Homo sapiens: one gene and its partner. The protein of the gene in region 2 interacts with the protein of the main gene of each other region in a biochemical or structural test. Each region holds a gene or a part of one and is shown on either strand. Other genes may lie near its edges. The genes, in order: ERCC5 and ERCC6.

Region 1 (13,271 bases), on a different chromosome or scaffold from region 2:
GACCCCCAGAGGATGCCTGAAACTGCAGAAGTACCAAACCTGATTGTCATCAATCAGAACATGTTTCTCTTCATGTCTTCCACCCCAAAATGTAATGGCTTTTCCATCCTAACTGAGCACTTATCACACGCTGAGGTCATGACTTTTGCAGTTTATGGTACGGCAGCAAAACTAGCACCAATTTCTTTTCGCTTCTTCACAATATCACAGATAGAAAAGTCATTTTTATGCAGATCTAAGCAACCTCAGCCAGAATACGATTTTTTTCTTTCCTTATTAATTCAAGAACTTTCACCTTTTCATTTAAAGGAGGCACTTTACAGCTTCTCTTTGGCATATTCAAATTGCCAGCATCATACTCTTGCACTGTTGTGCCATCATTAAGTCAAATAAGAGTGACTTGAGGAGAAGCACTGCAATATCGCGACAGTTGATCTGATCACCGCGACAGCTACTCAGTGATTAACAGGCAGGAAGCATCTACAGCACGGAGATGCTAGACAAAGGGAGGATTCACGTTCCAGGCAAGATGGAGCAGGAGGGTGTGAGATTTCATCACTCTACTCAGAATGGTGTGCAACTTAAAACTTATGAATTGTTTATTTCTGAAAGTTTCCATTTAATATTTTCAGACCACAGTTTACCACAGGTCACTGAAAACTGCAAACCGTGAGTAAAGTGGAACTATGGTATTATGATTATTACTACTGCTATTATTACCTACCATCACTACTATTATCAATATTACATTTGCACGACATACAGATCACACAAAGGCCCAACATGGATGACTTAGAACATCTCTATCAAAATTACAGATCCAGTAAGCTGCTACTCCACACCACCCTACAGTCCACCACTTCCAGAGACTTCATGGTTGCAGAAAGAAAATAAAGAACAGTAAATCATTAGGGACTGTCTCTCTTTCTCCCATTTCTTCCTGTTATTGTTTACACAACCAAAATTCTACTTCCTCAACTGCCAGCCAGAGATCCTTTCATACTCAAGAAATAAAATGCCTGATAGACAGACTGAGCCTGGATTTTTCTCCTGAAATAAAAATCAATTTACTTCTGTCCTTTGTATATCCAAAGACCCAAGAATGTCACTTCTGTGCACCTTAGTGTGTGCTACTGCACATTCTTTGTGGAAAAAACAGGGAGTGATGAGAAAAGAAATTTACCCTTCCTTTTTCATATTTCTGCTATCAATTTAAGCAATATTCAAAAATTGTAGAAAATAAAAAAACACTCCATCTATGCACTAAGGTCGATGATGCTGCAAAATTTCGATTCTGTCCTATAGTGGGTGAATGGAGAACTACGGTAGAAATAACAGGTAGCAGCAACAGAAAGAGAAAAAGAACTCACTCACTGGCAACTAAGACAGGGAGTCATCAATAGTAACATGAATTAAGTATCAATGGCAGCATGATCAGGAGACACATTTGCTAGCACCCAACTGCACATACCACCTCCACTCTAGCTTTCTGGGCCTGCCAAGCTACAAGATGTTCCAAGGTGAAGAAGCCCCATTCGCACTGTCCAGGAAGAGGGCAAGGGAATGTGGAGAGCCAATGGCATCTCTAGGGCTGCAGCAGAGGAAGATATACCTGGAATTTCAATTTAGAACTTATTTTTCCATTGTGATTAGATTCTATATGACTATTAGTTTTTATAGACAATGTATATTATAGGTTACAATAACTTTTATGACCTAACCTAAGAATTGAGTCAGTAAGCATCTACTGGACACATACCATGTGAAAAATACTGAGCTAGACACTGAAAATACAGAGGTGAGCAAGATAAGCGTGTTTTGGAACTAAGAACTATGAAGTGATATTACAGGGTGCTGTGAGAACAAAGACCAGGAAAAAAGACCTAGTCTCGGGTCAAAAGTCAAGAAAAACTTCTTAGAGTAAATGTCTATAGGCTCAAACGTATAAATATACGATGCTTCTTAGAATCTGAGATGTAGAAATGCTGTTTACTGTTAACTGAGATATCGTGTAAGTATTGCTTATCAATTTTCTCTTCTTTCTAATAAAAAGTTTTGCTGAAGTTCTTAATTCTAAGCATGAATGTACTGTTGCATATTTCACCTCTGGCATTGCTTCAAATAATGTTCTTCTGCGCTTGGTGAACTCTTTCATATCAGTCAAGATTTCATGCTTTACTTCAGGGGGCAGGCTGCTGAAGTCCTCAGACTCAATATCTATCGCTTGAGGATTATGAAAGAACTCTTCCTGTAAAGATAAAATCACAGCACCATGAAATTTACATTTCATACACTTAGTTCTATTCAACATTAAGGATATGTATTATGTTTATATAATAAACACAGTTCTACATAATCAACAATTGGCTAAACACAGTTGCATATAATCTGTGACAGGCAACAAAGTGAGTAGGCAAATTAGGGAATGTAGCCATTCACTCTTTAATTCATTCAAAAGAAAAAAATACTTAGCAGGTACCTCTAAGGCACCAGGCACTGTTCTAGGTGCTAAGGTACTGTGAGATCGGATAAGGTGCCAGATAAGGTCCCTGCTCTTAGGAGCAGAGGAGAGAAGACAATAAATAAATAAATAAATGAACAAGATAATGGTAAAATAAAGCAGATTTATCTGATATGAGAGTGATTACATGAACAGAACGTGGAAAAAAAGATCTATTTGATAGATAAAGAAGACCCCACTAAAAAGAGGATGTGTGAGCAGGGACTTGGAAGATATCAAAGAGCCTCACTGAGGATAGAGCATTTCAGGCTGAGAGAACAGAAAATGCAAGAACCCAAGACAGAATGTGCCTTAGGAATTCAAGCAATATATATCATTCCCATAATTAAGTTAGTTTTATTTTGCTTATAACATAAGAAATGAAATTAAAAGAAATTCACAGAAGACATGGAAAAGTGTAAAACTTTTCTCAACTTTAACTCATTACCAAAAGTACTTTAAAATCCTTCATTAGTAAAAAAGATAAGCTAATACAACCTGATGTCCTGCATGTCTGTATGTTACATGTGTACGTACCAACCAGCAAACACGTAGGACAGACCTGTCACTGCGCTCAGCATTTCCTGTGCTTTCCCTCACTAATGCTCCCATCACCCCCATCAGGAAGGCATTGATATCAATTTCGTTTTACAAAAAAAAATAAAGCCTTGGAGAATTTAATCTGTGTAAGATCACACAGCTAGTGAACAGTGGAGCCTGGACTGAAACGCAGGTCTTTTTGACCACGAGGCCCATGGTCTTAACTAAGATTGCTCTCACTAGCTGCATTAATAGCACAGCACCTCCGCAACCTGAAGGATCTCGAGGTTTTAGCTCAAAAGTTTCTACCTGATAGAACAAAACCATATGAACAAACAAGAAACAGTGAATTTGGGAATCAAAAAATGCTATCTGTGACACTAAGAAACTTGAAAAATGTTTATGAAAAAAATGTATATATACAGCATAATCTCAATTTGTAAAAATGTTATTCATGAAAATATGTGTGGGACATTCTTCTTGTCTAACTCTCTGCCCCTTCCATAGGGCAGTAACTAGCTTCTGAGGAACAGGATGTAGTGGGAAGGATGCTGCACAACTTCCAAAGCTAGGTCAGAAAGGCAACAGGGCTTCTGCTTAGAACTTTCTCTTGGGATGCCCACACTGGGAATACAGTCATCATGCTGGGAAAATGCCCAGGCCACGTGGAGAGGCCACAAGTAGGTGCTCTGGTGCTGGCCGCATGGAAGACTGGCTGACAGCCAGCATCAACCACCGCCCATGGCAGCAAGGAAACCTCGTTAATCACTCCAGCCCCAGCTACAGACTGGCTGCATCTACACAAGAGACCCCAGAGAGAACTGCCTGTCTGAGCTCATCTACCCCTGGAACCCAGACAGATGACGATAACAAATGATGTTTTAACCACTAAGTTACACAGCGACAGATAACTAGAACATACACACATATGTGTACACATATATATGTACACATGCACATTTGATACATATATACAAATACACACACAGATATTCAACTATATGGGGCAGGCAAAGAATGGATGAAAATATATCAAACTGTTATTACAAGTTATTTATGAATGATATGTTTTCTATATTTTCTATGTAAGCACATATTACTATTGGTTGGTTGGTTGTAAAAGAAAAATAGCTTGTTTTGAATATATAGATGTGCATAATGGCAAATTCCATATATATATATATACACGTGTGTAGGTGAGTGTGTTTTAAATACATACATGTACACATATATATGCACAACCAAAAAGCCATCTGTCTTTACTTTTTATCAGGAACTTTCACAGTTTGATATACCTCATTAATATTCATTTTCATGTCATTCATTTCAAATAACAGAATACATTCTGAATTCAAAAATGATCTAAATACCTGTAATGCTTGTTTTTGATTCATTCTTTCTTGCCATTCTTTTTCATCTTCCTCTTCTGAACTGAAAGTCAAACATACTTTTACGATATCTATGATTTTTAAGGACCCCTTACAAAAATACTTGTATGCAAGGCTCTGCTCGTTATACGGGCTACAGTGGTGAATAAAACAGCAAGATCTGTGCCACTACTGGTCTCATGGTCTGGTGGGGGACACGTGTAAGTAAGCAATTAGAGTGGGATCTAATAACTTCCACCACAAGGGAAGGGCAGGTCACTAGAGATGCAATAGGGAGTCACCTCACCCAATTTAGGAGTCACAAAAGCTTTCCAGGATCTCCTGCAATTACACTGGTTGGAGTTAGCCACGAATTAATGAGTGTAGTTGTAGGGAGCGGGAAGGTTCATGGAGAAGAGTGTTCCAGGCAAAAGAACTAAGTTGTATGACCATATAGAAACAAGGAAAAGAAAGCCTGCCTGTGGATGATGTGAAGAAAGGCAGGGATAAGACTGGAAAGTGTAATTAAGGAGTTAAAGTTTTATCCTAAAGAAATGAGAAGCTAAGCTGCGTGTGGTGGCTCACGCCTGCAATCCCAGCACTTTGGGAGGCCGAGGCAGGTGGATCACTTGAGGTCAGGAGTTCGAGACCAGCCTGGACAACATGGTGAAACCTCGTCTCTACTAAAAATACAAAAAATTAGCCAGGTGTGGTGGCACGTGCCTGTAATCCCAGCTACTCCGGAGGCTGAGGCAGGAGAATCGCTTAAACCCAGGAGGCAGGGGTTGCAGTGAGCTGAGATTGTGCCACTGCACTCCAGTCTGGGCAACAGAGACTCCATCTCAAAAAAAAAAGAAAGAAAAAAATGAGAAGGAGAAGCTAGAAAGTGTTTTAAGTAAGGAAATGACAATATCAGATTTGGATTTTAAACAGACTATAACACAAAACAGAGATTGGGCTTGGTGGGAGGAACTATTACAAAAAGGGTATGATCAAAGACAAAGACAGAAAGAAGTTTAAAAGCTAATAATGTAACCTGGAGAAAAAATGACAGTGGTAGCAATGGAGACAAATAGAACTGAGCTGATACAAAAGCTAAGTTGTCTCTTGGGAACTCCTGGGAAAGGAAGAGGTGGAGGGAAGGACAGGGGACAAAGGCAAACTGCCAAGCTTCCGGTTCTCCACCTTCACTTCAAACACAGAAACCACCAACCATTAAGAGAGAGACAGAGGAAGAGGAGTCCACAGAGAGGCTGAGCAGAAAGCGCCAGAGAGATGCCGGGGGAGCGGGGCAGTGTGGCATGGTGTTTAGTGCAGAGAAGTCGAGCACACTAAGACGTGCAAAGCGTCTGCTAGATTTAGCAACAAGAATGTCATGGGTTGTGGTATTTTAGCATCATGGTGAGAGAGACCATACTGGATTGAAAAGCAGCTAGAGACAGCATGTGTAAGCAAAGTGTAAGCAAAACTAAAATTCATGCCTTGGAGAATTTAGAATCCACAGCCCTGGCAGAAGTTCTTTAGAATGAAGAGGAATAAGAATCATGAATCACCAAAACACAAAGAATAGTAAATAAAAAATTTAGTCTTTGAAAAATATTCTGAAAGGTATAGAGCATGCCTATTTCAGATGCATTAAGAAATGTTCACATGCCTTATCATGTAGATAACACATCAAGGTTTAAATGTGTCTGAATGTAGCAATGACTAAAATAATATTCTTAAATAGTTAAACATTTACCTGTGTTTTTCTTCCTCTTGTAAAGGAGGCAAAACATAGAGGTCGTTTTCTCTTCGAACTTGGGTAAGACTGGGTAGTGCTTCATCTCTGGAAAGTACACAAATCTTTAAACAGATTATGCAGACCCTGCTCAGGATGGTGAACAGGGACCTGACCTGGCTGCTCTCAGGCCACTGCTGTGGAAAATAAATGCAGCCGAGAGAAAGGAAGGAACCTTGGCGGGGCTGCTCACCTAGAGTCAAGAAGACCATAATCAAAGTAAAAAGTGTACATGACGCAACACGACAGCTTTTTTTTCTCATTAGCAAAGTTGATTCTCACAGAACGGAGAATTGCCACAACTCCAAATTACCAGGTCAAAATGGCAGCCTACTTGTCTCATTTCACTCTCTATTTTCTGTTGAGAGTCAAAATTAGATAGGGAAAGAGAATCGCAGGAAATCAAGACAAAAATCACTTTTTTAAAACTTCATCTCTAACACGACTATAATTTTCCTCTTGCCTTTTGCTTCTGAAGGCAGTTTTGATGGCTTGTCTTTTCAAAAATGTTTTCAGAAGCTTCTCTGTCGTTTTCCTGGAGTCACTGGACGCTAAGTCCTTTCTCTGCCTTCTCTTCACCTATGAGAAGAAAGGATGTAAGATCTCACTTCAGGATATTAGACCACTAGAAACATTGCTGTGATTTATTTTCCAGAGAATTTGGTTTGTCTGAGTTTTCAGACTATGGCTGCTTTAGCATTTCCTCCTAATTGCCATATCAGTGTATATCTTCAGGTTGCTGCTACGTAAAGGACACCCAGAGTTTCCATCTATTACTTAATGGGCTACTACACAATATATTTGGGAAACTTAATTTACTTTCAGTTTCTTTTAAATGTCTTTTAATATGCCCAAGAAGTGGAAAGCTTAAATGCTTCCCAAAAGAAATTATTTATTTATTCTATAAAATGTCACAGTGACACCAAAAACAATTTCTAATATTGCTTTTTATAAACATGCATTACTTACATGTAATTCTGCCCTTCAATATTCAAGATTATATATCATGAGAAATTCTAAAATGTATAGAAATATCTTGTAAGAAATGTTCAAGTAGTGACAAATGGATAGTCCCTGTGCTTATGGCTGAATATCGGATAAAAATAACCAAGATATTCTCTTTTCCTTTCTAATCCTTCCACAAAGTACCTGATTTACAGTATGCCTTGGGTAACTGAAAACTGCAACATTCAAGACTAGACACTCTTACTGAGGCAACAAAGGTCCCCCAGCATTTATAAATGCTTTTTATTTTTATCCTATATCCTTACTTTTATCCTATATCCTCATTTAGAGAGTATCTGGTATGATTACAAAGTCATCATTTCATTACTTTGGTATTTTCAACAAATAAAAGTCATATATCCAAATGGGTGCTGTCATTTGGACTGTTTAAACATTATTTTATGTCATTTTTTTAGAGATGGGGTCTCCCTGTGTTGCCCAGGCTGGACTTGGGCTCAAGCAATCCTCCTGCCCCCGGCCTTCCAAAAACATTTTTTAAAACTACTTCCAGAACAATAAAGCAGCAACTCATTCTGACTCTTCTATATCATGGTCAATTTCCTTCCTAGATAATCCACTTTAGTCACCACTTGGCACCACATAACATTGCTTACTCCTAAAATCCAATTCCCCTTAAAAGAAGGCTTGCTATCACGGAGGATACTTGATCTCAGATTCAGGGAGGCACTTCCCAAAAGAGGGTTTCCACAGTGTTCTGAGTGATGGCCGCATCCTTGAAATAAATATAAAACACCTAACAAGATCCTCTGAAGGGAAAACTCTCAACAGCAAGGTTTTTAGTAGTTAGTTTTATTTAAAAGTTAAATTTTATCATTGTACCCATGATGAACTCTCATAAAACTTTTTAAAAGAAAAATTAATTGTTCAAGATAAAAAAGTAGATGTAATTAAGTATGTGTCAAAATAAGTCTGTTTCTAAAATTCTAAAGAGAAAACAAAAATTTTATGTGAATTTTTCTAAGAATGCAGAAAGAAAAAAATTATTTGACACTTACTAAAAACTATACGACACTTACCAAAGTCTGTTTCTTCAATAGTGGAGCATCCCCATCAAACACAAAAATAGGACGAATTCGAAAAAATAAGAGTTTGCAGAGCCGATGAAACAAAGTGAGAAGATGAGGATTTTCTATTGAGTTCCCATGGCGATCCCGGACTCCTTTAAGTGCTTGGTTTAACCAAATGCTAATATCTGGGAGAATTGTTAATGGAAAAAACTCCGGGATTTTTCTCTTCATCCTCACAACTTCAATTTCCTAATAACTGATATTATCCAAACGTTGAACACTAAATACTTATCACTATTCATTTAAAATTGAAAAACATTTAGCTCTCATGGGATCTACCTAAAGTCAGTTAACTTTTAGTTGAACTCTTGTTACCCCTATTCACATACTGCATTTTAAAATCATACAAAGACAGACATATCCTTTTAAGAAGTCTCATTGCAAAGAATTGCTTCTTTAAAAAAAAATAAGTGATTGCTAAAGAATTTTCATGAATTAGCACAAATTTTCTGGAGGACAATTTGACAATTCATAGTGAAAAAAACTTTTTAAAACTTTGCAGTCTATTTTACCACTTCCAGACATTGATCCTCAGAAAATCATCATGGATATATAATGAGAGTTATTTACAGAATGCTTGTTTATAATAATGAAAATATAAAAATCAACTTAAAAGTTTTCCAGCAGGTCTTTTTAAAAAACTAATCATAGGCCGGGCGCGGTGGCTCACACCTGTAATCCCAGCACTTTGGGAGGCCGAGGCAGGTGGATCACGAGATCAAGAGATCGAGACCATCCTGGCCAACATGGTGAAACCCCATCTCTACTAAAAATACAAAAATTGGCTGGGCATGGTGGTGCGCACCTGTAGTCCCAGCTACTCAGGAGGCTGAGGCAGGAGAATCGCTTGAACCCAGGAGGCAGAGGTTGCAGTGAGCCGAGATCGCGCCACTGCACTCCAGCCTGGTGACAGAGCAAGACTCCGTCTCAAAAAAGAAAAACTAATTATGGCAGACCTATTTGCTGGAATACCAAAAAGCCCTTAAAAATGGAAGTTGCAGGAGCATGTGTGATAAGGAAGATAGTCATTAAATATTATTAAAGATAGTAAAACAGGCTATAAAACCATATAAAGTATAACTCCATTTTCTGATACAGTATATATGTTAAATATAAAAAACTAGTTCACATACCAAAATATTAAAGTAGATATTATGTCTGCTGAGACTAAAGATAACTTATATTTTCATCTTGAAGTTTTCTTATATTTTTAAACTTTTCTAAAAAGTGCTTCTCAAAAAATGTTATATTTGTCCAAAAGAAAGAGTGACACCGCGCTCTGCTGGTTTTCCTGCTCTCAGACTCTTTGCCAGCTCCTGTAACACTGTTAAAGTATTCACTTCATCAGTGATCTTTCTCAGGCCCTCTTCTTTCCTCCTGTCTGAACTATCAACCTCCACTCCCCTCCACATACACCACGCCCTGACTCCATGTATATGTCTGGCCCAGAGCACGCTCCTGACCCCAGAACAGAGAGCCCAGATGACGTCTCTACCCCATACCTCATAGACATTTCAAACTTAACATGATCAAAACTGAACTCCATGTCTTCTCCACTCAGCTGCTCATGCCCCCATCTCAGTGAATGTCCCTGCCATTCACCTGAGCCAGAATGCTGGGCATCACCACCTATAGCTATTACCAGGTCTATCAATTCTATCTTCTAATGTATCTTGAAGGTATATACTAGATTTCACCAACGTATCTTTGGTGAAAACCCTCCAAAGCTTCCCACTGCCTTCAAGATACTATCTAAAACTTCTTCTCCTGGTCTAGGAAGCCTTGAATGATCTGGCCTCTGCTCACTTCCTGCTACTGGGCTTTCCTCAAACCCAGAAATCACTAAGCTCCTTCCTGCCTCCAGGTTCTTCTCACATGCTGCTTCCTCTGCCTGAAACAGTTTCTCCCTCTCTCCGCCTAGTTCTCTCCTACTCTAAGGTCTCAGTCCAGGGGTCCCCTCCTCAGTCTAGATGAAGACATCCTCCTTGTATACATTCCTATTTAAAAAATATATTGAGGCCGAGTGCGGTAGCTCACACTTGTAATCCCAGCACTTTGGGAGGCCAAGGCGGGCAGACCACCTGAGGTCAGGAGATCGAGACCATCCTGGCCAAAATGGTGAAATCCTGTCTCTACTAAAAATACAAAAATTAGCCAGGCATGGTGGCGTGTGCCTATAAGGCTGAGGCAGGAGAATCGATTGAACCTGGGAGGCGAAGGTTGCAGTGAGCCAAGATCACGCCACTGCACTCGAGCCTGCGTAACAGAGGGAGACTCTGTCTCAAAAAAAAACAAAAAGAAAAAAAAAACAGAGAGAAACCTGGACTGATGCTAATATTTGCAGGTAAATTTCTAACATAGGAAAAGAACATTGAAGGGGCCACCTATCACGTTATTTCTGTTTTTATTATGTGGCAGCATTTTTTCTATGCACTGGCATATCCAGTGCACTGAACAAAACACAGTATTGGCCCTATGGAGTTTATAATCTAGCAGGGAAAAAACCCAGCCTGTGTGCTCCATGGCTTGCCCGGGCAATTTGTGCACTGCACTCCCTTTCACAGGGACTCTTATACACAATAAATATCTGCTATTAAATAAGTTGAACAGTTTAGTATTTAAATGAATGTACACTGCCTAACTTTTACTAACATAAAAAAAAATGTAGGTCCATCAACAATTAATTTACAAAACACTATGTAACAAAATACCTAGTGGAAAGCAAGCTACTGCTATGCTTATTTCTATAATATTTAGCAATACCATGGGCCAGGCATATCCAAGACCCTAGGGATATACACCAAACAATTCAGCCATGAACAAAACAGAGACGGTCCCTATCTCCAGGAAGCCAGTGCAGCAGGACAAAAGGAATGGCAGGAGGTGATACGGCCACTGGGAAGTTTCTAGAACATGATTTAAGGATAACTTTGATGAACATGTGAAGAACAGATTATAAGGAAACCAGTTCTAAAATGAGTTACAATAGCCCAAGTTAACGCAGACAGTAGTGGTGGAGACCACGAGAAGAGATCGGATAAAAGATACATCTCAGAGGTAGAACTTGGTGTTGATGTGCATCTGTCTTGTATTAGATCGATGTTTCTGCTTGCTACAAGTATAGTCTGGAAAAGCCATGAAGCTCACTATTACATAGGATTAAATTAGTTTCTACTTGGCCCACTACTTTAAACTTTAACTTCAGTGAGGAAATCTAGTTTCAGATCAGTGGCTCTCATCCCTGCTATCCATTAGAATAGGATATGAAGCTTCTGAAACATACGGATTATTAAACCCCATGGGCCTAAAATTCTAAATCATAGAGACTGAGGTAGGACTTCTTTTATTTTTTATTTTTCAATTAACTACAGGTAATGCCAATTCTCAGCTAGGGTTGAGAATTTTGGCTTGAATTCTTAGAGATGAAATATGTAAAATTAGACGACCTGAAAATATTCACATAAATTGTTAGACAAGAAATATGAAAAATGAGACAATCTGAAAATATTTGTATAATTTGACTTGTCTAATTTCAGTAAGTTTATATACGCAAAATTAAATTTCTGCGGACAGAAAAGTTAAAATCTGCAGCAAAGCCAAAAATCACTTTCGGTATAAGACCCAAAGACCAATAACATTTCAATACAAAAAATAAGTTTCTTTAGTTCTTTAGTTAGGTGACTTAAAAATCTCCATTAGTATACATAGCCTAAAGAGATGGTAATATCTTGCTAATACACTTAAACGCATATTACAAACATTAAAATCTATAAGAGACAAAAGTTTAACTTACTTCTGCATTATTTGACACAGACATTTAGACTGTATAAATAAGACACTAAGCTATATAGATGGTTTAAAGACCAAACAATTTAGTATAGAGATACAAGAGTAAATTATGAAACTAGTATAATAACGGGTAAGTTTGTCATTAACAAACAATACAATAAAATCTAAATAATTTCAGGTGTCTGAATTCCCGTGAAAATGAAATAAAGCAAAACCGATTGTAGAACAAGTAATCAGATATACTCCTTTGACATAAACGAGTTTATTATAAATATATGAGGTTGTCATGACTAGAATGTCTTTCACAGTCCTTTTTATTTATTTATTCAGAGACAGACATGAACACGGCTCATTGCAGCCTTGACCGCCTGGGCCCAAGCAATCTTCCTGCCTCAGCCTTCCGTGTAGCTGGGACCAAAGGTGCAGGCCACCACGTCCAGCTAATTTTTTGACTGTGTGTAGACAGGGGTTCACTATGTTGCCCAGGCTGGTCTTGAACTCCTGGGCTCAAATGATCCTCCTGCCTTGACCTCCCAAAGTGCTGGGATGACAGGCGTAAGCCACTGAGCCTGGCCACAGTCCTCTTTAGTAATTCTTCACAAGGGCTGCTACATAAAATGATCTAAATCTTTGCTGAAGTTTTAAGGGTTCTTGTCACTGAAAACTAACCTTTACCCTTTATTTCTGAGAAAATCTTTAGACTGCAATGATACTAAGCAACAGCTTGAGGGCAGCAACAGCGCATGTGCTCTAAAAAACAAAAAACAAAACAAAACAAAACAAAAATCCTTTGGCTTTCCCCAATTCAAAGTACCCTGTATAAAAACTTTTAAGCCAAAAATCAATTACAGATTTATTTAAAGATTATTCACTTGCAAAAAATGATAATCTCATTATGTTTTAAAACTTATCAATGTCGTTTTATTTATAAGTTTTGTACCTACTGAAGAATTAGGGCTCCACAGTCAGGGATTCCTTTGCTGAACGCCCACACACTCTTGCACTCCATTTCCCGTCCCCAATCCCCCCGCAATCATTTACAGGACTCTTTCCACAAGCCCACGAGCCCCTAGACTCATAGATCCCCATTTAGGAAATTGGTGTAAGGTATCACCAGATTCTGAGCCAGAATAGATACTCAAAAAAAAAAAAAAAATGACTACATAACAAAGAAAAAGATAAAAATTTCAAAAGCAGTATCA
Region 2 (9,515 bases):
CCCAGATGATTAAGCCTTAGAAGATACTCTGCAAGACTTAGGCCATGAACGGAGCCCTTCTCTGCTCTTCTTAACTCAAAGTTAAAAATAAAGTCAAAAATTCGGTGTTCCAGCCTTCTTGCATTTTCACAAGTGCATCAGCTCTTTCTAGTCTTAAAAGTTACGCACGTTGTTGGGAGGCCGAGGTGGGTGGATCACCCGAGGTCAGGAGTTCGAGACCAGCCTTACCAACGTGGTGAAACCCTGTCTTTACTAAATACGAAAAATTAGCCGGGCATGATGGCATATGCCTGTAATCCCAGCTAATCGGGAGGCCAAGGCAGGAGAATCGCTTGAACCCGGAAGGCGGAGGTTGCAGTGAGCCTGGCGGAGCCTGGCGGAGGTTGCACTCCAGCCTGGGCAACCGGAGCGAAATTCCGTCTCAAAAAAAAAAAAAATTTCACACGTTGTTTCCTTGCAAGACGTTCACTTTACTTTCGACCTGACTGACTTATCAGATGTCACTTTATCAGAGAGGCCTCCTTGACCCCACATCTACCTCCACAATTTCAATTTGGTTTCTCTCATTTTGTCAGAAAGCCTTGTACTTTCCTCTTAACAGCAGTCACCACAATTATATTTGTGTGTGTGTGTGTGTGTGTGTGTGTATGTGTATATATATATATATAGTTTTTAAATGTCTGTTTTTCCCATGAGACTCTAAGCTCTTTGGGGACAGGAATTAGTTAACCTAGTACATTGCCTGGTGTAATTAACTCTCAGTAACTATTTGTTAAATGTATGATTTCTTTCTTTCTTTTTTTTTTTTTTTTTGAGACGGAGTCTTGCCCTGTCGCCCAGGCTGGAGTGCAGTGGTGCGATCTCGCTCACTGCGGCCTCCGCCTCCTGGGTTCAAGCGATTCTCCTGCCCCAGCCTCTCGAGTAGCTGGGATTACAGGCGCGCGCCTCCATGCCCAGCTAATTTTTGCATTTTTAGTAGAGACGGGGTTTCACTATGTTGGTCAGGCTGGTCTCGAACTTCTGACCTCGTGATCCTCCCGCCTCGGCCTCCCAAAGTGCTGGGATTACAGGCATGAGCCACCGCTCCCGGCAAATGTATGATTTATTTCACTTCTGAAATTCTTTAACCTGATAAGAGCCTTCTGGTTTCCAACTCTCACTTCCAGAAGACTTGGTTTTCTGGCCATTGCCAGATACTAAGTGACTTCTTGAACCCTTTCTCCCATTTCCAGGCCCCTTCTGTTTTTTTGTTTGTTTGTTTTTGTTTTTTTAAACCTACCCAGCTTGGACCCTGAAGTCAGTTGCTTCAGCTACTCTTCTCAGCATCTTCAACCCCGTGACTCTTTTGCGCTACCATTTCTGCTCTGAAAACCCTCAATAGTGACATTTCCCCCAGGACTACTGAAGGAGGAGATTGTTCAGCCCTGGAGATTGTTAGCAGTCTATGGCTTTGCAGGGCTGGGGAGATCCTCAGGTAGGTCCTCCACAGCAATCATCAGTGTTTGTTCCCTGTCAACTCCCTTTTCTCTTGTACAGGACATTTATTCCAGACTCTTAGTCTTTAGCCCCAGTGCCAACTTTGTCTCCTGACTCAGGAACTGCCCAACTTGCTGCTTTGTGGGATATTTTGTCTGTAATCCACTTCAGCTTCCCTCCTTTCCACCTGCAAATTTAGATCTATCAGGAATCCTCCTTCTGCCAGAGTCCGAGAAAGATGTGTTGTGCCTCCTGTTCATTTCTGCTTGCGACCTTCCACTTTTGCTGTCTCTTTTGGTACACCTTTCTGGGTTATCTCCTCTGTCTCCCTCCAGCCATTACGTGCTCTAGTTTTTCTTGCCCTAGTTCTCTCCCTACCCCCAACAAATCCATTATTACTTTATCACTGTAGCTGTCTCCCTGCCAGAGGCAAGCTCTTTAAAGGACAGGCCACTCTCTTGTGGCCTCCATTTCCTCATCCACTCCTTACACACCAACTACATTTCAACCACTACAGTCTGGTTTTTGGCCCTATCGCTCCACTGAAACTTTTTTATTTTTTCGAGACAGAGTTTCACTCTTGTTGCCCAGGCTGGAGTTCTGCGGTGTGATCTCAGCTCACTGCAACCTCTGCCTCCTGGGTTCAAGCGATTCTCGTGCCTCAGCCTCCCGAGTAGCTGGGATTACAGGCATGCACCACCACGCCTGGCTAATTTTTGTATTTTAGTAGAGATGGGGTTTCACCATGTTGGGTCAGGCTGGTCACGAACTCAGGTGATCCACCCGCCTTGGCCTCCCAAAGTGCTGGGATTACAGGTGTGAGCCACCAAGCCTGGCCTGAAACTTCTTTTACCAAGGTAAATGGTGACCCATTGGTATCCAAATTCACTCAGCCTTTTCTCATTCACTGGACGCTCTTCCTCCTTTTTTATTATTAGAAGTTTTCCCCAAACTTCTTTATTTTTAACCTTGTCTTTACACTACAATACTATTGCTTTTTGATATTATTTTACAGAAATAGAAAAATGGTTACTTAATATTTTTGGTTGAATTGGCATCCTTTTTTCTTAAAAAGAAATCCTCATGTGTGTACAAATAAGAAAAATGAAAACAGAATTGTTAACTGCCAGCTAGTACAGACACTCTGAGCTGGAATCCTGCTCTCTCTGTTGGAAAGTGAGGTGAGCTGAGCCTTCCTCTTGAAAATAATCAGCAGGCCCCAAAAGAAGGAACTTTCTCACTGTGTTGTTCACTTTTTAACCTTTCCAATGTTAGCCTCCTCGTACCCTCCAAAATGACCTTAGGTACCTGTCAGAGCCTTGGGAACCCTGGAACTGCTCACTCTGCTGATGTGTCCACATGTCACCCAGACTTTCCCTTGAGCTCAGATTTGCATTTCTGACTGCATGCTGCAAATGGTACTGATTACATGTAAGCTGCTTGCCAGTCCTGCTTCCTATCTGCTTCCTTTTTGAGAGTCTCATTTTTGTGACTGAATTCACTGGTGACTCATTTGTCCAGACCAAACTTTTTATTATTTTAGACTTAGCTCTGAACCTCACTTCCTTTCAGCAGATATTGAGCACCTCCTATATATCAGACCATGCATGGCCCATGTGTTCAAATCTCAGTTCCTCCGTGATATTTCTTGGGCCCCAGACACCATATATAGTTCGCTCGATGCTCGTGTGACCTCTTGTCCGTGTCCCGGGCTAGCTGACCTGCCCTGCTCTGTTGTTAACTGACATGCTGCTGCTCCAGTGGATAGCCACTCGGGTGTAGATGATGCTGAATTCTTTGTATCCCGGTGCTTTATTGCTGGGCTTATTTTACTTAATAAGGGATGAGTGGGGCCCACTGGGGGAACTTGTCATTTAACAGAAAAGTTACAGTGCTCAAAGAAATCTTATTCACAGTTAAACAAAAAGCAAGACTGATTTTTGGTTATCGTTTTGCTTTTTAATATATTTATTAGATGTGATAGTTGTATAGGTAATATAGTGAATATATTCTCCTTAAAGCAGCAGGTCCTGAGTATGTGGAGTACAATGTGAACATTCCCCCTTATTTTTCCCTGTGCTTTCTCTTCCCCATCCTGATTTGCAGGCTTAGTTTGTATCCTGCCAGATCATTCTGTGTGCAGGATAGATACTTTTTTCAGCATAAGTGTGTTCATACCATGAATTTTTTCACTTAACATGGCTTTTATATCAGTATACAGAATATACTTAGTAGTTACATTAAACTATTAAAAATGTGCTGCACTAAACATTCTTGCACCTGTGTGTGACTAGTTCTCTGGAATAAATACCTAGAATTGCTTGACAAAGGTCATGTGCCTTTAATTTAATAGATATTGCTAAGTTGTCCCTACAAGGGGCTTTACTAATTTATATTCTCAGCAGCACTATGTGAGGGGGGATCCTTCTCCTTGTCTGTATTGGATTTATCTATCAGGCTTTGAATTCTTGCTAACCTGATGGGTGAGAAATTATACTGTGTATTAAAATGGAGTTTTTTTTTTGTTTTTTTTTTTTTTTTTTTTTGAGATTGAGTCTCACTCTGTTGCCTATGCTGGAATGCAGTGGTGAGATCTCATCTCACTGCAACCTCCGCCTCCTGGGTTCAAGTGATTCTCCTGCTTCAGCCTCCCGAGTGGCTGGGATTACAGGTGCTCACCATCATACCCAGCCAATTATTGTATTTTTAGTAGAGATCGGGTTTCACCATGTTTGCCAGGCTGGTCTCAAACACCTGACCTTAAGTAATCTGCCCGCTTCAGCCTCCCAAAGTGTTGGGATTACAGATGTGAGCCATCGTGCCCAGCCTATTTTTGAGAATATTTTAATTAATCTTTTAAAAAAACTTTAAATTTATTTTACAAGGTCTTGCTCTTTTGCCCAGGCTAGAGTGCAGTTGTGCAATCATGGCTCACTGCAGCCTCCATCTCCCAGGCTCAAGTGATCCTCCTGCCTCAGCCCCTTGAGTAACTGGGACTATAGGTGCACATCACCAGGCCTGGCTAAGGTTTTAAATTTTTAGTAGAGACAAGGTCTCATTATCTTTCCCAGGCTGGTCTCGAAGTCCTGAGCTCGCTGTGTTTCCCTGGCTGGTCTCTATCCTCCCGCTTTGGCCTCCCAAAGTGCTGGGATTACAGGACTGAGCCACGTGCCTGGCCTAATTAATCTTCTGAGCTTCTGATTTGTTCAAAGCTCCTATTTACTGGATAGGTATTCAGCCTAGGAGTTTCTAGTCTCAGATTCACACAGAAGCTCTTTCCTAACATCGCTGTTCCTATGCATTACAGTTGATCTTGCCACTATATTATAAATCATTTGTGTCATAATGAAATGAAGATGCTAACTTGGAAAACAGCAGCCAAATGACTTCAGCTGTTTTGAAGAATATTCCATGGCCATCACCCCAGGATTTTGGTGGCTGGCTTTCTTAGCTGGCTGCCTAAATGTCCTTTGTTGATGATACTGCATTTCTTTTTCTGGTTAATTTTTCTTATTTATTATCAGAACTCAAGAAGATACGTTGTCCCTTTTTAGTAAATTAATACTTGGAAACTTGAATTTATGTAGTTGGAAGATTATTACTTGATCTTTTGAGAAATCAGTCTGCTCTAATTATAAAATATTTAAGAACTACAATGAATCCTATATAACGAAAAGGCTTATAAATTTTTTTCCTTTTAGGTAGTCTGTAGAGAATGCCAAATGAGGGAATCCCCCACTCAAGTCAAACTCAGGAGCAAGACTGTTTACAGAGTCAACCTGTCAGTAATAATGAAGAAATGGCAATCAAGCAAGAAAGTGGTGGTGATGGGGAGGTGGAGGAGTACCTCTCCTTTCGTTCTGTGGGTGACGGGCTGTCCACCTCTGCTGTGGGGTGCGCATCAGCAGCTCCGAGGAGAGGGCCAGCCCTGCTGCACATCGACCGACATCAGATCCAGGCAGTAGAGCCTAGCGCCCAGGCCCTTGAGCTGCAGGGTTTGGGTGTGGACGTCTATGACCAGGACGTGCTGGAACAGGGAGTGCTTCAGCAGGTGGACAATGCCATCCATGAGGCCAGCCGTGCCTCCCAGCTCGTTGACGTGGAGAAGGAGTATCGGTCGGTCCTGGATGACCTCACGTGAGTGCAGCCCATCTTCTTCCTTTCAAAGTGGTGGTAAAACATGACAGGGATATTCAGGTAATGGAAAGCTCTAGTATTCCAGAAGTTTAGGAGATGTGTAGAACCTTTTATTTGGAGGACAGAGTCAATAAGGGCAGTCCTCAACCTCATCTTTGAGTCCCAGCCCTTCCCCTTAGGAGTGGCATTGTACATGGTAGTTAGAGTCTCTGTCCAGCTCGTGAAAGCCAGTTGCATGCATAATGTCCAGAAGAGAAGGGCTGTTCACCAGCATGTGCACAAAGTGATCTCAGGAGAGGTGCACCTAAATTCAGGTGTTTCCTATTCGAGATGCCAGGAATACATTGCGCCCCCTTCACATTTTTCTCTGTGCGGTAGCTTCTTTCTAGCTTACTGTCCCCAAACTTAGTGTTCAGTCCTTGGGCAATTTTTCAGATTTGCATTTTTAGAAATAATAAAGACTCCCCGGTTTTCTTTTCTTCCATCCTTGTTCTGACTCTGGAAATGGAGATTTTATTTGTGTCTTAGAGAGGGAGAAGACTTGAGCTGTTTTGAGCATAGCACGTTAATGGGGAAGAAGGGGAGGCTGTAGACCTGAGCAAGGGTAGGAGGTGAGGACAGGAGAGGGGAAGTGGGAGGGGTTGAGCTCACTTATCATTGCTGCTTGGCCCCCGTTGGGCAGTGTTCTGGGCAGTGTCAGGTAAGCAAGAAAGAAGGCGAGGGCTGAACGGGATGGAGGATGGAGCAGTGTCACAGAGGATAGCTGGGGAGGGTGGAGTGTGGCGCTGTCATGAATGTGGTTGTTGGTACTTCAAAGACATGTTTTCTGCTAACCATTCCCTGGTGTGTTCTTTTGGCCTCCTCAGGAGCAGGTGCTCGTTCATGGTTATAGTCTGAGTGTTGAGGACCTCAACTCTTTGTAATGATACTTTTACATTTGATCTTGGAAATGTGTCCTCTTTCTCCAGAGGTGACAGAGGAGAGTTGTGGGGTCTCCATGCAGAGTGATGCTAGATGGCTGGTGGCATGTGGTGTCTCAGCCAGTAATACGCATTGTTTATCCTGTAATCCACAGAGGATACAAACAGCAAATTACACAATCATCAAGAAGATTGAATTTGTGTTTTGAAAATTGGAAGCTACAATTCTATGGTGTCTATTTTAGGAGTAATTTATTTTAAATTGATTTGTTTTCTTTGCACCACAAAGTTTAGTGCTGTAGTAAGTGAATCTTCCATTTATGTAGAAGAAAAATATTGTCGCAGATGTGTGATTTATATAAAAAAATGTTTAAGCATATTTAGGATGCTTCCAGACTTTGGAAGGCTTCCGTAACGGGCTTAAAAAACCCATGTATGCATTTTTTCATGTAAAAGGACAACTTATTGCACATTGTTCTAGCATAGTGTGTTGAATAAAGTAGGCACTTAAATAATGCTTGTAGAATGACTGAAGCAGCTTACAAATGGGAATGAGCTGATCTAAATCAGCTAGATAAAAGAAAACACTAGCAGTCATCTTAAACCTCTAATGATCCTACAAGTTTTATTTGTGGCCAATAAGGGTATGTATTCTGGTTTAGTTTCCTTTATCTTTTAGTTAATAAGAAGTAAAAGGGACATGTTTTTAGCATTTTTCTCTTTATATTATGCTATAAAAATGTTATCAGAGTGCAAAATAGACAATTTATCTTATTTTTCAGGTCATGTACGACATCCCTAAGGCAAATCAATAAAATTATTGAACAGCTTAGCCCTCAAGCTGCCACCAGCAGAGACATCAACAGGAAACTAGATTCTGTAAAACGACAGAAGTATAATAAGGTGATTCAGAATAACATTCAGTATTGCATTTTTGAAAAAGTCATCATTTAGGGGCACTTAATTTAGGAAGTATTTTAAAAAGTGCTTATAAGATGTGAAGCAAATACTTATAATTACAATAGAGAAATTTTGGGTTTCTTTTGTATGTTTAATCTTTCTGCTGTTTTCCTTTAACATCCCATTCTATTGCATTTAAAAAAACACACATACATAGACACACACATCCATACGTATACAGTTGCTCCTTGATTTACAACAGGGTTACATCCCGACAAACCCATCGTAAATTGAAAATATTGTTAGTCAAAAATGCATTAAATACACTGAAAAACCTATCTTAAAGTCAAAATATTGTAAGTCAAACCATAGTTAAGTCCAGAGGCTCCTCAGTTTATAATGGGGTTATGCCCTGATAAACCCATCACAAAGTTGAAAAATTGCAAGTCAGACCATGATAAGTTGGAGACCATCTGTGTATTTGAGAAAAGTTCCTTTTTGGTGTTGCTTGCCTCACTTGGGCGCACTTCCTTAGTTTTCCTGCATCACCATTTCTTTGGCCTGGCTTAGGGTCACACTGGCCTCAGTCTCCTGGTCTCCTGTGAACTCTTTTCTGCTTAGCCCTTGCTTCCTCTAATTGTCTCCACTCTGTTTCTTGGTGGTGCAGCCATTGACCCTCACACACCTTTGCTGACAGTTGCGAGAGCTTGGCCCTTCCTCCCACCTTGGGTGTTACAGTCAGCACCCAGCCACACTGGGGTTGTACTTAGCTTTGGAAAACTTAAGGGTAGGGAATATTTGTTACTTAGGATATTATTTTTATGAAGTTTGAAACTTTTTTTAAGGATTTATGTACAGCTTTGTGAGGTCTGAAACATTTTTTATGATTTATGTACCCCTTTGTGAAAATACATTGCAATAGATAGGAATGACTAGCTGTAACCATTTCAGTTCTGCCATCCCAACTTGTGCTTACAGTTGATTCACTGCAGTGAGTAGAGTCCTTGCATCTTTTCTTTAAGCTCTCCAGGGGCAGGGCTGTGCGTTGGTTCAGTTCACGTGGCCCTCCTTTTATTATACTTTCCACTCACCAGTCTGTTACCTGCACTACCCCATCTTCTCTCACTTGCTTCCAGAATAGCAGCCCAAAGGTCAAAGCTAGCAGTTGCCCAAGGCAGGTGGGTCCTCCCAAATCAGAGAGAGGACATCTGGTCTCTTGTGGGAGCATGTGAAATTGATGTGCAGAGACCTTCTTGGGCTTCTAGTGGGCTGGAATTTCAAGGGTGTAGAGCATCAAACTTGAGACCACTTCAGGTCCTAGTCTAACTTAATTATGCATTCTTGTCTTTAGCAGCTCTTTGATGGTTAGAGGTAGACTATTCAGAGGGAAAGTGCTTTAGACAGAATGTTGCTGAGAGAAAAACTGAGAAAAAACAAATTGCAAGTCATTGCAGTGTGGCATTTATGTTCAGGATTTCCCCTTGTCCCACACTCGTATTTGAAGTTGAAACATTCTTGACCTTGGAAAGATGAACCAGGTACCACAAGCCCAGTTCATTGGGCCTCCCCAGTGAAGCCCAAGGGCACATATCTGAGTTCTGGTGATGTGGAAGGGAACAAGACAAAGAGGAGTCTGGCGTGGCCAGGGTGGAGAGGCATGGCAAGATATATTTTTTTCTTAAAGCTTTTTGATTAGGTAGAATACTAAAAGGACAGTCATAAATATAGTAGGTTATCAAAGGAGACTAACTTTTTCAATTGAACATTTGTGTTTTTATTTCTTATCTTATGGCCTGTTGACTTCCATAGCCCATTGGTTCTGAATCAGAAATACAGAGTAGTTTAGGGATTTGCCCAGTGTGTAAGGGGGAAACCAAGTAGAACAAGTCCACCTTTCAGGTCAGTGCCCATGTATTTAAGGGCTCGGGCACATAGAAGGCAGTCTGCCGTCCTCAGGAGAGCATGGGGGTGCAGGCATGCCTGTCTGCTGGGAATATTCACGGCCCCTTTACTCCTAGAAAAGTGGTAGTTGCTCACATAGGGCTCTCTAGTAATAGTAATGTATGGAATTTTTATGTAATG

The links.
Region 1: the proteins of ERCC6 (region 2) and ERCC5 interact in far-western blotting, tested with the Homo sapiens proteins (one study listed by BioGRID).

What each region holds. Positions count from the first base shown.
Region 1 is NC_000013.11:102,847,252-102,860,522, reverse strand, and holds part of ERCC5 (DNA excision repair protein ERCC-5), read right to left. Parts: intron 8,406-13,271; coding exon 8,230-8,405; intron 6,767-8,229; coding exon 6,651-6,766; intron 6,236-6,650; coding exon 6,149-6,235; intron 4,472-6,148; coding exon 4,411-4,471; intron 2,249-4,410; coding exon 2,105-2,248; intron 1-2,104. Other genes in the region: BIVM-ERCC5 protein, read right to left, coding at 2,105-2,248, 4,411-4,471, 6,149-6,235, 6,651-6,766, 8,230-8,405. UniProt on the Homo sapiens protein: Single-stranded structure-specific DNA endonuclease involved in DNA excision repair. Makes the 3'incision in DNA nucleotide excision repair (NER).
Region 2 is NC_000010.11:49,528,641-49,538,155, reverse strand, and holds part of ERCC6 (DNA excision repair protein ERCC-6), read left to right. Parts: intron 1-5,177; 5' UTR 5,178-5,191; coding exon 5,192-5,613; intron 5,614-7,315; coding exon 7,316-7,436; intron 7,437-9,515. UniProt on the Homo sapiens protein: Involved in repair of DNA damage following UV irradiation, acting either in the absence of ERCC6 or synergistically with ERCC6. Involved in the regulation of gene expression.